4 linked regions of the Homo sapiens genome follow. The protein of the gene in region 4 interacts with the protein of the main gene of each other region in a pairwise test. Each region holds a gene or a part of one and is shown on either strand. Other genes may lie near its edges.

Region 1 (3,621 bases), on a different chromosome or scaffold from region 4:
CAAGCATTCTACTCTCCATCTTCTACCTTACTCCCTCTAGAATACCAATTCCAACAAATGTTTGATATTGTTGGGACCTATAGTTCATTGATTCCATCTTTTCACTGTTGCACACCCCTCAGGTTCTCACTTCTCTCCTTACATAGTTTGAAGTTCAGAGTCAATAATTGTGGAGGCTTCCTTGTATACAACTTTAACTTATTTTTTTTCTCTTTCACACTTAATTATACTGGCTTGGCAAGACCATAGCCTTCGTATGGTAAGCAGAGTAATGGCCTCCCGAGGATATCCACATACTAATTTCTGAACCCTGTGAATATGTTACCCTCATATGGTAGAGAGGAATTAAGGTCACTAACCAGCTGACCCTAAAATAGGGAAATTGGAATATCTGGGTGAGCCCAGTGTAATCACAGGGTGCTTAAAAGTGGAAGAGGGGCTGGGTGTGGTGGCTCACGCCTGTAATCCCAGCACTTGGGGAGGCCAAGGTGGGTGGATCACCTGAGGTCAGGAGTTCGAGACCAGCCTGGCCAACGTGATGAAACCGTTTCTACAAAAATAGAAAAATAAGCTGGACGTGGTGGTACACGCCTGTAATCCCAGCTACCCAGGAGGCTGAGGCAGGAGAATTGCTTGAACCCAGGAGGTGGAGGTTGCAGTGAGCTGAGATCGCACCGTTGCACTCCAGCCTAGGCTACAAAAGTGAAACTCCATCTCCAAAAAAAAAAAAAAAAAAAAAAGTGGAAGAGGGAGGCAGAAGAGGAGGTCATAGTGACTCAGTGTGAGAAGGATTCAACCTATCCTACCTGGCTCGGTAGATGGGGGAAGGGGCTATGAACCAAGGAATGTGTATGGCCTCTGGAAGCTGGAAAAGCAAGAAGCACATTCTCCCCCTAGAGCCTCCAGAAAGGAACACAGCCTTGCTGCAACCTTAATTTTAGCCCAGTGAGACCTGTGTCAGACTTCTAACCTATATAACCTGCAAGATATAACCTGTAAGATAAAAGATAATACTTTGTGTTGTTTTAACATTTGTGATGATTTGTAACGGCAGCAATAGGAAACTAATACATTTTGCTAAATCCAACTCTGGCCCTCTCAGATGAACATGGTTGAAGAAACAATCATGTGACTGGTCTTACTTGAAATCCATCAATATCGATGTCAAGCAGGCCCTTCATGCTGCCTGGCAATCATAGTACATTTCTCTAATGTATTCACTCATCCATTGTACTAGATGCCTGTTTCATGCCTTCTTGCTTTTCAGACCCTCAACATCTCACCCTCATCTCTCTTGCTTCCAATTTCACTGGGTTGATAGAAGCAATCAGAAGACAGTTTCCAGAAGCTTCTTCCATATCAACCTACTTCCCAGCATTATTCCCTCTGTGTTCTTTGCCTTCTGTCCTGTTAGTATGGATGAACTCTCCATGCTTCTAGCTAAGGCACAACCCCTCCATTTGTGCAAAAGATCTCATCCCTTGTCACTCACTGGTATAAGGACTTCAGCCCACCAATTCTTTCATTGTTAAAAAAAAAAATCCTCTCTTGATCCTATTTTCATTTCCAGTTATTGCTCCATTTCTTCTCTTTCCTTTACAGCAAAATTCCAGGTGTCATATCATTGTCTACACTTGTCATTTCCTATTTCTTTTCTCCTAACTTCTGTTGAACTCGTCCCAATCAGGTTTTCACCCCATCACTTTACACAAACTGCTTTTATCAAAGTCACCAATGACATTCATATAACTAAATCCAACAGTCAATTCTCAATCTTCATCTACCTCGACCAGTAGTACTTGACGAAGTTAATCACTTCTCCATGAAACACATGATTCATTAGTCTTCCAAGGAGCCCTTGCTCTCCGGATTTTCTTCTTACTTCACTGACTGCTGCTTCAGATTCTGTTGATATTCCTCCTCATATCTTCTAAGATAATTTAAATCCCCAGATATGACATTTCACGCTGAAATACTTAAGTATATATTCCTTAAAAAGAACATATTCTTTTTTTTTTTTGAGACGGAGTCTTGCTCTGTTGCCCAGGCTGGAGTGCAGTGGCGCAATCTCAGCTCACTGCAACCTCTGCCTCCCAGGTTCAAGTGATTCTCTGCCTCAGCCTCCCAAGTAGCTGGGATTACAGGCACCTGCTACCACGCCAGGCTAATTATTGTATTTTTAGTATGGGGTTTCACCATGTTGGCCAGGCTGGCCTCAAACTCCTGGCCTCAGGTGATTCACCTGCCTCAGCCTCCCAAAGTGCTGGGATTACAGGCATGAGCCCCCTTGCCCGGTCAAAAAAAAAACCATATTCTTACAAAACCACCATGCCATATCACACCTAACAAAATAAATGAATTCATTGATATTATCTAATACATAGTCCATATTCAAATTTTTTTTTTTTGAGACGGAGTCTTGCAGTGTCATCCGGGCTGGAGTGTGGTGGCGCAATCTCGGCTCACTGTAAACTTCGCCTCCTGGGTTCAAGTGATTCTCCTGCCTCAGCCTCCCGAGTAGCTGGGATTACAGGCACCCACCACCATGCCCAGCTAATTTTTTGTATTTTTAGTAGAGACAGGGTTTCACCATGTTGGCCAGGCTGGTCCTGAACTCCTGACCAGTGATTCGCCTGCCTCGGCCTCCCAAAGTGCTGTGATTACAGGCGTGAGCTACCATGCCCAGCCTCAAATTTTTGAATGGTTTATCAGGATCCAAAGAAGGTCTACAACTTCATTTGGGTTTTATGTTTCTTGAACTTCTAATCTAGAACAGTTCTCCCCTCCCCTCCACTTTTATTTCTATGACAATGATTTGAATTAGTGTGATGTCTTCCTTGTAGTGTCATTAGTTTGTTCTGTCTCCTATAATTTAAACTAAAGGCTTGATAAGATTAAGCTTCAATATTTTTGGCATGAATACTTTATAGGGAAGGCTGTGTAGCTATATTGTGTCATATCAGGAAGTATATAACATCTGACTTTCCTACTTTCAATAATGCTATTGAAAGGTTGATCAATGGGTTCAGTGATTACAATCTGATTCCTCCTTTGCAAAGTTGCATTTCCCCCTTATGATGAGGAAGTAATACGTTCAGGATAGCTTAGTATTCTGTGAATATCCAGTTCCCCACCAACCCATCAGGCTTTCAACCATTGATAATTATTGCTCAAATCAGTTTTTTTTTTTAAAGAGATGGGGTCTCCCTATGTTGCCCAGGCTGGTCTTGAACTCCTAGTCTCAAGCGATCCACCTGCCTCAGCCTCCCAAAGTGTCAAATCAGTTATTAGAGATTACAAAGTGGTGATTTTCTTTTCTGAGACGGAGTTTCGCTCTTGTTGCCCAAGCTGGAGTACAATGACGCGATCTCAGCTCACTGCAACCTCCACCTCCCGGGTTCAAGTGATTCTCCTGCCTCAGCCTCCTGAGTAGCTGGGATTACAGGTGGGTGCCACCACACCCGGCTAATTTTTTGTGTTTTTAGTAGAAACGGGGTTTCGTCATGTTAGCCAGGCTGGTCTCCAACTCTTGACTTCAGGTGATCTGCCTGCCTTGGCCTCCCCAAGTGCTGGGATTACAGGCGTGAGCCACCAAGCCTGGCTGCAAAGTCGTGATTTTCT
Region 2 (4,112 bases), 3.3 Mb from region 4:
AACCCAGCACGACAAACCCTGAGCCCAGTTTCTCACCAGTGTCCTTTATGAGAAGATGCCCTCACTGACCAGATCAGTTCCCAATGCTGGCAAGGCTGTATGGAGGTCTATTGCAGGTTACCAATCTCACAGGAGTTTTTAGAAGAATAAATGAAGAAATGAAAATGAGACTATTCTCAGCACAGTGGTCTATAGAAAGTGCTGAATTTATGTTGATTTACTCAACGAAGGACAAAACTTTAAATTGTGAAATTTTATATTTTTTGGGATGCACTTGGAGGGCCTTTTTTTTTCCTACCTTTAATCACATTTTATAGGTAGTTGCCAATTCTGTTCTATCTTTTCTTTTTTTCTACAGGGAAAACTGTACACTTGTCCTGATCTTCACCATGCTCTGAAATGAACCTGTGTGAACCCAGCGTGACAGAAGCAGGGACCACAAAAGTCTAAGGAATTCATGTGTTAGGACTTCTTCCAGTTCTATACAATTCATTTTATGAGAAGACATGATTGCCTTCCCGTTTTCAAGACACGCAACTCTAAAATGGTGAACAATGAACCTCGAATATTCTTTAATTTCTGCAACAATCTTCTGTAAATCTTTATCTCGAAATGGCTTCCTAAATCTACATTTTTTTACAACTGCCGTGGTTCAACATTTGCTTAGCAGGAACTCTAGGTCAGAGCTGTCCCTCAGCATCTACGGGATGGGGCCCCACCTGATTTTATTTCCTAACTTTCGAGCTGGCCTCAGATACCCGTTTATTCTTTGCTTCACAAAGATGCTTAGATAAAAGATCTGAAGACTCTCTTCAAAGATTCAAAAAGCTCCACTGTTTTGTGGGAAGATGTCTGTGGTCAGATAGGCAGGTGGATCGGGCGCCTAGGGCCCGGAGGTAGAAGGAGGTGGCCGGAGGCGCTCAGGCCAGCGCCTCTCGCATCTCTGAGGAGGGGCGCCGCCCAGGCGCTCGCGTTGCTAAGTCCTCTGTTTGCCGCGTTCTAAAGGAGCCCCGAGCGGGACCAAGGCAAACGGGGGGGGGGTGTGTGTGGCCCGGGAAAGCTCGAGCAGTGTCTTCAGTAAACCCCCAGAAGAGGCAGCGGCCCCTCCGTTGATCCCTCCTGTCCCCAGGACCTCCTGACTCCGAGGGGGCAGAGGATTCCCCGAGTCCTTTGTTCCTCCCAACCGTCGCCGCCCCCGGCGCCCGCGCCTCTCGGCACGTCGTGCACCCCCGGCCGCAGCAGGCGAATGGTCTGGCCCGTCGGTAGCCGCCACCCGCTTGGGCAGCGACAGCTGTTCCAGGCACTCCGCGTCGAGCACCGGAGTCCCGAGCCGTGGCTGCCACGGGCGGTGGGCGGGCGGAGGAGAGCACCGGACCACCAGTGCAGGCTGCCGAGTCGGGGCGGCCGCCCACGGGGAAGCTGCGAGGCGCGGGAGCACCTGGGGGACCGCTTGCAGCGGGGACGCGAGGACCCGGGCTGGGCTTTCCTCACCCGGGTGAGTACCTGCTGCCGCCATCCTCCCCCGACCCCCTTCCATGTCCCCACGTCCCCAAAGGCTCCGCCCTGGCCCTCTTTCCGGGCCCCCATCCCCGGACTGTCACTGCTCTGGGGACACCGTCCCCGCTGGGAGCCGCGGAACGGGGAGCTGCTGCGTTCGTGCAAATGATTCAGCACCATTCGTGCCCTGAGAGGTTTGGGCAGAATGGGGGAGGGAGAGGGCGGAGGGGACGGGGTCAGTTGCTGTGATCTCAGCTCAGTTTTTAGGCTCCAGATGGGAGACTCGGGCGGGCGGGGTCGGGTTGGGTGAACGAGGAGGCTCCCTGCTGGTTTATTCTGTAATTCCGTCGTTTTCCCACATCGTGGTATAAGCCTCCGCGAGTATGCGGGGCATTCTTGAAAGGGTATCAAAATGCCCTTTTCGCACATGCGAGTGAAGTCTAGGGCCCTTGTAGGTACCTCTCACTTTCTCCACATCTTGCTCTGTTGGATGCCTGACTCATGCCATCATCCACTTATATCACATCGCAGCGTTCCCTCGACTGATGTAAAAGATACCCTATGAAAGTTGCCTTGTATTCTGGGTGGGTTTGATTGATCCTGGCATAGAAAGAAAAGATTTAGGAGAGGTAGGAAATAATACCTTCATAGCCTAGGCACTTACTTTTATATATCGTATTTTATTAAATCATCATAATCCAGAACCAAATGTGGAAACTGAGGAGCAGGGAAGTTAAATTACATTCTCAAGGTCACAGAACAGGAATTCGAATATAGGTTTTCCTGACTCTATAGTCCATGGATTTTCCACTGTATTAATGGAGTGTGTCCAAGTGTACATATATATGCTCTATTAGATATTAAACATAGAATTAATTAATTGAGGAGTAATCTCAAACAACAGCAACAACAACCTGTAAACTTTCTGCATAAGGAATTATTGCTCCTTCAATATGAAAGAAAGATGCTTTGAATCATGTGAAAAATAATCTATTTTCTTAGAAAGCTTATGGCAAAAAATATGTGAACAACACTACATAGGAGAGTGAGGTCATAACAGGAGATGTTCAGCACATTTTTGGCAGTGATATTTGGTGGATGCTCAAGTGTTGGAGAAGTCGATTAAAAACGTAAGAAGAACTCTGGAAATCTTTTTCTGTCTTAAATGTTAGGGAGACATTTACAGTAATAATAGTTACTTAGTTCATGAGGTGTGCGACTGAACTGCACCCCACAATAGGGTGACAGGTGAACCCATACTAAGATAATGTTACTTGATTCATTACAACTCTGTGATATTGCATAACAGGTGATAACTCCATTTTACAGACTAAGGAACAAAATTCAGAGAAGGTTCAAGACCACTCAGTAAGCCATGGAATTTGGACAAGCCTTGACTCTTAGTCAGTTTAGAAATATGAGTGTTGTAGTAAAATGTAGTTCTTATATAGTGGGAAACTGAATTAGTTTGTTGTTACCCTGCCGTTAAGAGTCAACAATTATATTGACCTTCTATGCTCCTTCTGTAAAAATAATGGATGCTAGGTCTTTCTTCGCCCGTTGATGGGTCCTTTGACTTGCTTTCATTAGCGACTTACAGATTTTTTCTTAAGAAATGCATCTCTTGTTTATGTCTCAAGAGGCAGGTTGCTATAGTACAGATGCTCATTATCTCTAAATACTCACATAGTATTGATGGTAGGCAGGAACAGAGTCATCTTAGTATGTCATTTCTAAAGTATTGAACCATTTGCATTGGAGAATTCTTTTTCAAGTTAACGGGGGTATTGATAAAGTCCACTGCCTAAATAAGGACATAAAATGGAGGCACAAATTTATATTTGTTGTTCAAACAAGAGTATGAGAAGTGGGGTCTTGTGAAGAGTCTTGAGTTTGATTCCTAAAAGTCATTTCATTTTGTTCTTTACATGGCTATAACCTATATCCTGAACCTTGGCAAGGCATCTTGTAATCCAATCTGTTTAATCCTAAGGGGGACAGCAGAACTGGCATGAATGAATAAGCAAAAATACAATACCACTGCTGTTAAAAAAAAAAAAAGGAAAGTGCATGTCCTGGTGATGGATGGTCAGCAGCAACATTTTAAAACAGAGACAGCACATTTTACTTAGATGACATCACTGAGAGTATGAATATAATACCAACTTGGCTTTAGAACTGCTCTCTCTCCTCTGTCCAATGACTACAGTCTGCAAACCATCTAAATTCCCCACTTCAAGGAACTTAAAGTCTAGCAGGGGAAATTTTACTTACACGTGAGTAATTAACAAATAACTTAGAATTGGCTTAATACCAGAAAAGGGTGGTGCAGACCTACTGCTATAGCGGTACCTTAAGAGAAAAGAGAAATAGTAGAGCCTTGGATGATCAGAGGATCAGGAAAGTCTTCATGGGTTGAAGTGAATTAAATCAGTCTCAGAGACTGGAAGGATTCTGATAGGCAAAGAGAAAGCCACATAAAGGTTCAGCTAAGAAGTGCTCATCTACTGTTTGGATACATGGTGAAAGATCATGAAGAAACTTGAATGTCAGACAGTGAGATCTGTTTCTGATCTGTTAATCATTTCTCTTTCTTACATTCTCCATATCTGTTG
Region 3 (3,621 bases), about 62 Mb from region 4:
CCTCTGTAAACCAAATTTAGAAAGAGACGATAAGAAATTAGGCTGGTCCCACTTCCCGCATTACAAATGCAGGAGCCTATCTGGAGACAGAGTAGTGAGCATTTCATGTGTGCATCCAGAACAGTTATTCTGGGATACCTCAGCTTGTGTCTCTAGAGAAGTGACCCCACTGTCCCTGACCTGCCGGTCACCATGATGACTTCCTCTGCCCTAAATCAGGGTAAAACATTTATAATGTCTTTTGTTCCATTAATCATGAGGCCCTTGCCCAGCTGCCCTGCGGGACACTCCAGCCTCCATGTCCTGCTGCAGACTAGCTCCCCAATGCATATGCCCCACCACAGCTTTCATGCAGAACCTGCACTGGTCTCTGAGGAGATGACAAGAAGCCCTGCCCCACCTCTGCATCTGCCACCAGGTGGTGGGCTGGGTGGCTCCCAAGTCTGATCCTACTTTACTCCCTTGGATAGTCGCTGGAAATTCTGAGTAGAAGACCCCAATAATAACCAATGTAGCCCTTGAACTACTGCAGCCAGTGCCTAAACCATGTATAAAAGAGCATGGCGCTTTATCCATATGTGGAGTACCTGCATGCACATTACCATGCCATAAATGGAGACACCACAAGGATAAGGCATTTAGCGAGTTGGTGGCAGCATCCAGGCCAGAGCTTGAGTCTTGTAGTTCTTGGTTCAGGGCTCTTCCTCCTATAACAAAGCCCTTCCATCTCATGTCCCCTACTCCCTCTTAGCATCAGAGAGATGCTGCCCCTGCCCCACAGGTCACATTCCATTAGTGGTGAAGTTTCTATAGTTGTAACCATGGCATCTCCAGCCCTGTGTTTTCCTCTCCATGCTCCCCACTGAGCAGTCTTGATCCTGTATTAGCCCCAGGAAATGAAATAGAAACAGGACCTTAGGATAAAAAGTTGCAGTGGAGATGTGGTGGCCACCAGGGGCTGGAACTGTGGGGGTGACTGAGAGTATTCCAAAGCCCTGTGGCCAACTTACTGGTGCTGAGTTTGCTGGTGAGCCTCTCTGTCAGCTGGCTTCCCTGGGCGAGTTGCTCCCGGAAGCTCTGTCCCAGGTAGTAGTCAATGTCATTGCTCCTTAGGAGATCCTCAAAAGATTTTACTGTATCTTTTGCATGCCGGGTGATAAGATAACAAATACCTCTCCCTTCTCGTATTTTTTGCCGTAGGTAAGACAGTTCCCGGGCCTGATCCTGAATCAGGGAATCATATTTCCTAATGCAGGACAGAAGAGGAAAGTGTAAGTATGGAAAGAGTGGAAGCTAACTTATGGAGTTATGGGGGCTTCTGTAGAGATTTCTATGAGAACATCTCTAAGGAACTCCCCCAAGCTGAATTCTGGCACATAAGCCATAGGAGGTATTTAAGAGTAAATTCTACCCTGATAAAGTATTGCATTAAAAAACTTAGTACGGGCCGGGCGTGGTAGCTCACGCCTGTAATCCCAGCACTTTGGGAGGCCAAGGCAGGCAGATCACAAGGTCAGGAGTTTGAGACCAGCCTCGCCAATATGGTGAAACCCTGCCTCTACTAAAAATACAAAAAAAATGAGCTGAGCATAGTGGCACATGCCTGTAATCCCAGCTACTCGGGAGGCTGAGGCAGGAGAATTGCTTGAACCTAGGAGGTGGAGGTTGTAGTTAGCCAAGACGGCACCACTGCACTCCAGCCTGGATGACAGAGTGACTCCGTATCAAAAAAAAATTTAGTATGTCACTGTTCTTCAACTGTTATACATGTGTTAATTATATGTCCCTAGATAAATCATAAGGTCTGTGAGAATAAACATAGTTCTGCATTTTACATCCCTTACAGCACCAGTATCACATAGATTCACAGCAGTTACTCAATGAATAATTAGCATCATTTCATCCTAAGTCTAGATAGAACCTTTCATGCCTTCTGTTTTAACCACCACCTGATGCCTGAATTTCTTCTATGTTACGATACTGTGGCTGACTACATTTTGCAATGATGGCCATCATTTAAACGCTCATACCATCAACTGATGGGACCCAAAACAAGAGACCCTAAGTGAGAACCACCCAGCTGAGCCCAGTCAAACCATAGAACCATGAAGCATAATAAAGTGTTGTTTGAAGTCACTAAGTTTTAGAGTGGTTATTACTTAGCAATAGATAACCAGGACACACCAAGATGAATGTCTGTGTTTTCAACACTAAGTATCAATAACACTTATAACTATGGCAAATAGCATTGAGAGCTTAACATATGCTAGGCACTATTCTAAGCACTTGTATTAATTCTTTTTTTTTTTTTTCCGAGACAGACTCTTGCTCTGTCACCCAGGCTGGAGTGCAGTGGTGCCATCTCGGCTCACTGCAACCTCCACCTGCCAGGTTCAAGCGATTCTCCTGCCTCAGCCTCCCGAATAGCTGGGATTACAGGTGTGCACCACCATGCCCAGCTAATCTTTGTATTTTTAGTAGAGATGGGGTTTCACCGTGTTGGGTAGGCTGGTCTCGAACACCTGACCTCAGGTGTTCTACCTGCCTTGGCCTCCCAAAGTGCTGGGATTACAGGCATGAGCCACCACGCCTGGTCAGCAGTTGTATTAATTCATTTAAACCTAATATCCACCCTTTGAGATGGGTTCTCTTATCATCCTCATTTAATAGGTAAGGACAAAGGCTCAGAAAGGTTAAGAAGGTTGCATGGGTAGTAAGCACCAGAGGTAGGTAGTCTGATTCCAGTATTACTACTATACTATACCATCTTTACTAATATATCCCTAAGAGGAAATCCCTGAGACCCGGTATCTCCCAGATACTGGAACATCATCCTATGCCCTCCTGGTTGCCTACCTGTCTTTTCTGCAGACCTGTATCTACCATTTAAATCAGTGTCCCTGTGAATACCCAGACATGTTCTTTCTTCCAACTGCCTGAGCTACCCTACGCCAAGCATGAACTTACACATTTTCAATCAAGAAAGTACCCAAACAGTGCCATCCTTACCCAGGCCACGAGGCTGATCTCAGCTCCTCAGCCAGCTTCTCTTCTAGTCCATTTTTTGGGAGCTGGGCCTCCAGCTGGGATACTCTCTGGATGAGACTCTCCAGGTCCTTTTTGGCCTGAAGCCCTGGAGAGTAGAAAGCCCCAGTGCCATCAGACAGCCACCCCTCATCCTCATCAGGGACACTATGAGGTGAAGACCCCTCCAAGGTGCCAACAGCTCTCAGCTTCCGGGGTCTTTCCAGACTAGACGAATAATCACTTGTAACTGAGAGGGACCGGACCCGGCTCTTGAGGTTTTGAATGACCTTGTTGGCATTCTGCAGCTGGGCCTTCAGATCTTTGATGTCCTTTCGTAGGACCAAGATGTTTTCTGACTTTCCATATACCCGGAACTCTTCCTGCTTCCCTAGCTGGTTCTCCAAGGGCTTCCTCTCAGAGGAACTAGCCAGTGTTGAGCCCCGGCGTCCCTGCTCAGAGCACAGCCCCTCCATCAGGACCATTTCCTTGAGGCTGTTGTGCTCCTCACACTCTGAAAAAAGACAAAGATGTCTTCCTAAATAAAAGTTGGATGTGCTGTTGTGGCCACTGCCTTTGAGAGGAGGCAGGTTTGGT
Region 4 (3,621 bases):
TTAGAGGTGTTAGGGAGGAGAACTGCAGAAAAACCAGGTTTACCTGTTGATGAGATTACATGTCTTATGCCTTTCATTGAAATCTGTTTTCCACACCTTTTCCAGGATGGCAGTGGTAGGGTATTCATTTTGGAACACTATATTTTAGGCAATGAATAAGAACCTATTAGTGTATGTTTTCTTAATGTTGGAGGCCAAAAAAGAGACAGGTGGCCTTCAAAAATTAATAGCTCTTAAAAGGCATAAGGAAATACAACTTATGGAAATGTTCTTGTCAGACATTGGTGAGAAGCTGTGTTTTGGGGGTGCTGTTAATTAAGAACATTTCCCTGTTGGCGTAAGTGTCTCACATTTTTGCCCTTGGTGCCCAGCTCACCATGAGCACGGTCAATTCACAAGGTAGTTTTTATAAATAAAGGTTTTGGGCAAGCTGAACGTGGTCCAGAGAGATATTAATGAGAGGGCAAGGGGGAAGAGTTAATGAAAACATACTTCCTGGTGGAACATAAACTGCTTTTTGGAACTGGAGAGGCTTTAAAATTATTTTCCCAAAACCCTGTGGCGTTTCTTTTCTGGAGGCAATGAGATGGGGAGAAATGACAAATGGCTTCGTTTTATTATTTTCTCCTCTCTCGTTCTCCATATTTTTGGTAGGGAAAATTGGACATTTATTTTGGCCATTTTCCTTCTATTCGCAGAATCAATTACATTTTTGGTGTATTATGCGTGGTAAATATACTCAAGGATCCTCTGGCTTAAAAGCAATGAGTTGATTATTCGAACATCCCTTCTTTAAAGGCAGTTAATTGCATGGAAAACATAGGCCCCCATTGTCTGGTCCCTTTAAACTTTTATTCTGAGATTTGTTCCCAGGGTCTGGGCTGTGTAGTGTAGTTGTTGTTCTGCATCATTGGCTGTTGTATATTCCAAGAAAAATAATTTTAAGCTTTTAAATCATACAGTGATTGAAATCTTGCATTTCAGATGGACTGAAATCTCAGGCCACTAGTGTTCAAGGATCTACAACATTTTATAACCTATATCACTTAAAGGAGGCTTGGCTAGCTTTGGGAGAATGCTGCCTTCTAGAGGGTTATGTAAATCAGGAATTGTGGCTAATTTTTTCTTTTGTAGATTGCTGCCTGTTCTGGAATTTTTTTCTTCCACTCAAAAGTGTGATGGTGCCATCTAGAATTACCTGTGCTTTTCAGTTTTCAGTGGAACAGGAGTTAGATCACATCTCTTTAGTTGGAGGAAAATTTAGTGAGTGTTCTAGTCTACATGTCACTTCGCAGTTCCCCCATAGTTACATAATTGGTGTTGTGTGTGTCCATCGTAGAAGACATTTGATGCTCATTTATTAAATATGCTTGCTGGCTGCTGCTGCATCTTTGTTCTGGACAGACAAATTACCTTTCTCACACTGAGCTTCCACTCTGGGGAATTAAGCCTTCACCACTTTAATTAGCTTGGAAGTAGGGGGTTGCAGTTCCTAATAGACTACAGGCTTTTTGTAAGTTAGGGAAAGGGTGAAACGAGAACTTCCTGGGAGGCTCAAAATGTCATTTAAAAACCATAACAACCTAATATGTATTATTTCATTTTGGTAATTGCAAACAGATTGTATTTGACAAGTGTGTGGATTTCCATTTCTGACTTAGACATTGAAGCCACCCTTGCATTGAACTATGTTCTTTTATCTATCACAGGTCATTAACACATTGCATGTATTGAATCACATATTTGTGTAGCTATTAAGTGACATAGCAGATAAGAAATAGTGAAAAATATGTGAATATTTGTACATAGAAATTTTCATATAGACACACACCTATAGGTAGTACCAATATGGGTGAATATTTTTCACATGGGGATATCGGAATAATAATGATAACTGCCAGTATTTGTTGAACTTTTATTAAGGGCCAAGCACTGTTGAAAGTGCTCCCATATGTATTATGTAATTATCATAACAGTGTCATTATCCCTTCTTTAAAGATGAGGAAACTGAGACACAAGCAGTTTAAGCAACATTCCAAAAGGTTACACGGTTAAGCATATGAACCCAAAACTTCCTAGGTAGGAACTTGTCTTGGAATGTCCCCGCTATTTAAAAAATTCAAGATCCCACTGCTGGGCAAGATGTTACATTCCTTTTGGAAAGACACTTGCTCTTAACAGAGTTAAGCAATTAATTGTAGTACTTTACACCAGAAACTTTCTGAGCGTCCATTTACTGTCTCATTTTCTTTGCTAGTAAAACTGCAGAAAATGTTATGCTTTAGTTCTTCACTGCCAGAGTAAGTAGCATAGAAAGCCTCTATCAAGTCACAGTTGGAAAGTAATCTAATAAAAGAAGATTAGTGAATGTGGGGAAGACAAAAGCAGTCATGTTTGAGTTTAATATCTCTCAAATTTAGCATTTTAGCTAAGATGCCCGTTTTTATTTCTTGCAGGTCTGCTAAAAGGTCAGAGTAATGCAGAATGCGTGCCTTCATCTCAGATTTGTTCATCACAGGTGGATCCCATGTGTCTTCAGTAGACAAGTCACCTTTGTAGCTAGCACCAGTGCCAGCTCCATGCCATTGCACCTTCTTTAGTCTTGATTGCCCTTCCCGCATTTATTGGTGTATTAAAATGACTGAATATGAACATTAAGGACTCCATGAACCTGGGCTAATGGGAGACTGTAGAGAAAATGAAAAAAGATCCACCAGAGGACATCTTGGGGAGGGGGAGGGAGCTGGGGGGGAGGGAAATGACTAATGAAGCTAATTAAAAGAAGCATTCAAATCTGCTTTCTACCCTCATTAACAATTAGCAGGGCACTGGCCAGAGTTTGTACCCTGTGTTTTACCTTAACAACATTCTATTTGCTCTTTGTATATTTAAGTGTTGTAAGGAAACGTGTTTCAATCAAAACTGACCATGAGATAAAGGAAAGAGATGTGGCTTTTGTGATATTCTATCACAAACACTTATTGTATCTCTGTAAAATACAATGTATGTATGCATGTAAGTGTTTTTGTCCTAATGTTGCTACTCCCATGGCAAAGAAAAAAAAAAGAATGAAAAAAAGAAAAAAATTTGGAAAAAAAAATCAGGCTCATAGCAGCTACTGTGTAGAAAATTCCCCCTACTTCTAATTTGCTGAATGAAGAAAAAAAAAAATCTTTTATTTGTGATATTTTCAGAGACATTTGCTCTAGTATGGTGTATTTAAATAATAAAAACTTAAAAGAAAAAATATTTAATGGTGTTTGGGTTTAAACACTGCTTTTTCTCTTCTGTATTTTGAAGAAATTTAGTTTTTATTGTTGTTGAATAACAAGCTCACTTTAAATTTGAAGGAGTTGAGGGAGGTGGAGTGTATATTTATTTAGCTCTGGGCCAGTAAGGTATTCTTCAAATTACTTAACCACGCCATTATTGGCAGGGGTACAAAGTAGTTTCTAACAGGGTCCTTTCTATAAGTCAAGAATATTCTGTTAACAGCATTTCGTTACACTTCTATATCACAGTAAGTCTTTTGTGTTTATAAATACTTGAGTGTCCACTATTTTGTTTATTCTTTTTCTCAATAGCAAACAAAGCCTTGGGTATTGATGAAAAGTATGTATA

Evidence for each region. The genes of interacting proteins can lie anywhere in the genome.
Region 1: the proteins of LMO4 (region 4) and ERCC6L interact in binary tests that used the Homo sapiens proteins (3 or more experiments, as listed by UniProt).
Region 2: the proteins of LMO4 (region 4) and TTLL7 interact in binary tests that used the Homo sapiens proteins (3 or more experiments, as listed by UniProt).
Region 3: the proteins of LMO4 (region 4) and PDE4DIP interact in binary tests that used the Homo sapiens proteins (3 or more experiments, as listed by UniProt).

The regions. Positions count from the first base shown.
Region 1 is NC_000023.11:72,232,509-72,236,129, reverse strand, and holds part of ERCC6L (DNA excision repair protein ERCC-6-like), read left to right. Parts: intron 1-3,621. UniProt on the Homo sapiens protein: DNA helicase that acts as a tension sensor that associates with catenated DNA which is stretched under tension until it is resolved during anaphase. Functions as ATP-dependent DNA translocase. Can promote Holliday junction branch migration (in vitro).
Region 2 is NC_000001.11:83,996,314-84,000,425, reverse strand, and holds the start of TTLL7 (tubulin polyglutamylase TTLL7), read left to right. Parts: upstream 1-1,293; 5' UTR 1,294-1,495; intron 1,496-4,112. UniProt on the Homo sapiens protein: Polyglutamylase which modifies tubulin, generating polyglutamate side chains of variable lengths on the gamma-carboxyl group of specific glutamate residues within the C-terminal tail of tubulin.
Region 3 is NC_000001.11:149,004,826-149,008,446, reverse strand, and holds part of PDE4DIP (myomegalin), read right to left. Parts: intron 3,539-3,621; coding exon 3,010-3,538; intron 1,247-3,009; coding exon 1,011-1,246; intron 4-1,010; coding exon 1-3. UniProt on the Homo sapiens protein: Functions as an anchor sequestering components of the cAMP-dependent pathway to Golgi and/or centrosomes.
Region 4 is NC_000001.11:87,342,332-87,345,952, forward strand, and holds part of LMO4 (LIM domain transcription factor LMO4), read left to right. Parts: intron 1-2,456; coding exon 2,457-2,465; 3' UTR 2,466-3,621. UniProt on the Homo sapiens protein: Transcription cofactor. Plays a role in establishing motor neuron identity, in concert with MNX1, acting, at least in part, to disrupt LDB1-LHX3 complexes thereby negatively modulating interneuron genes in motor neurons.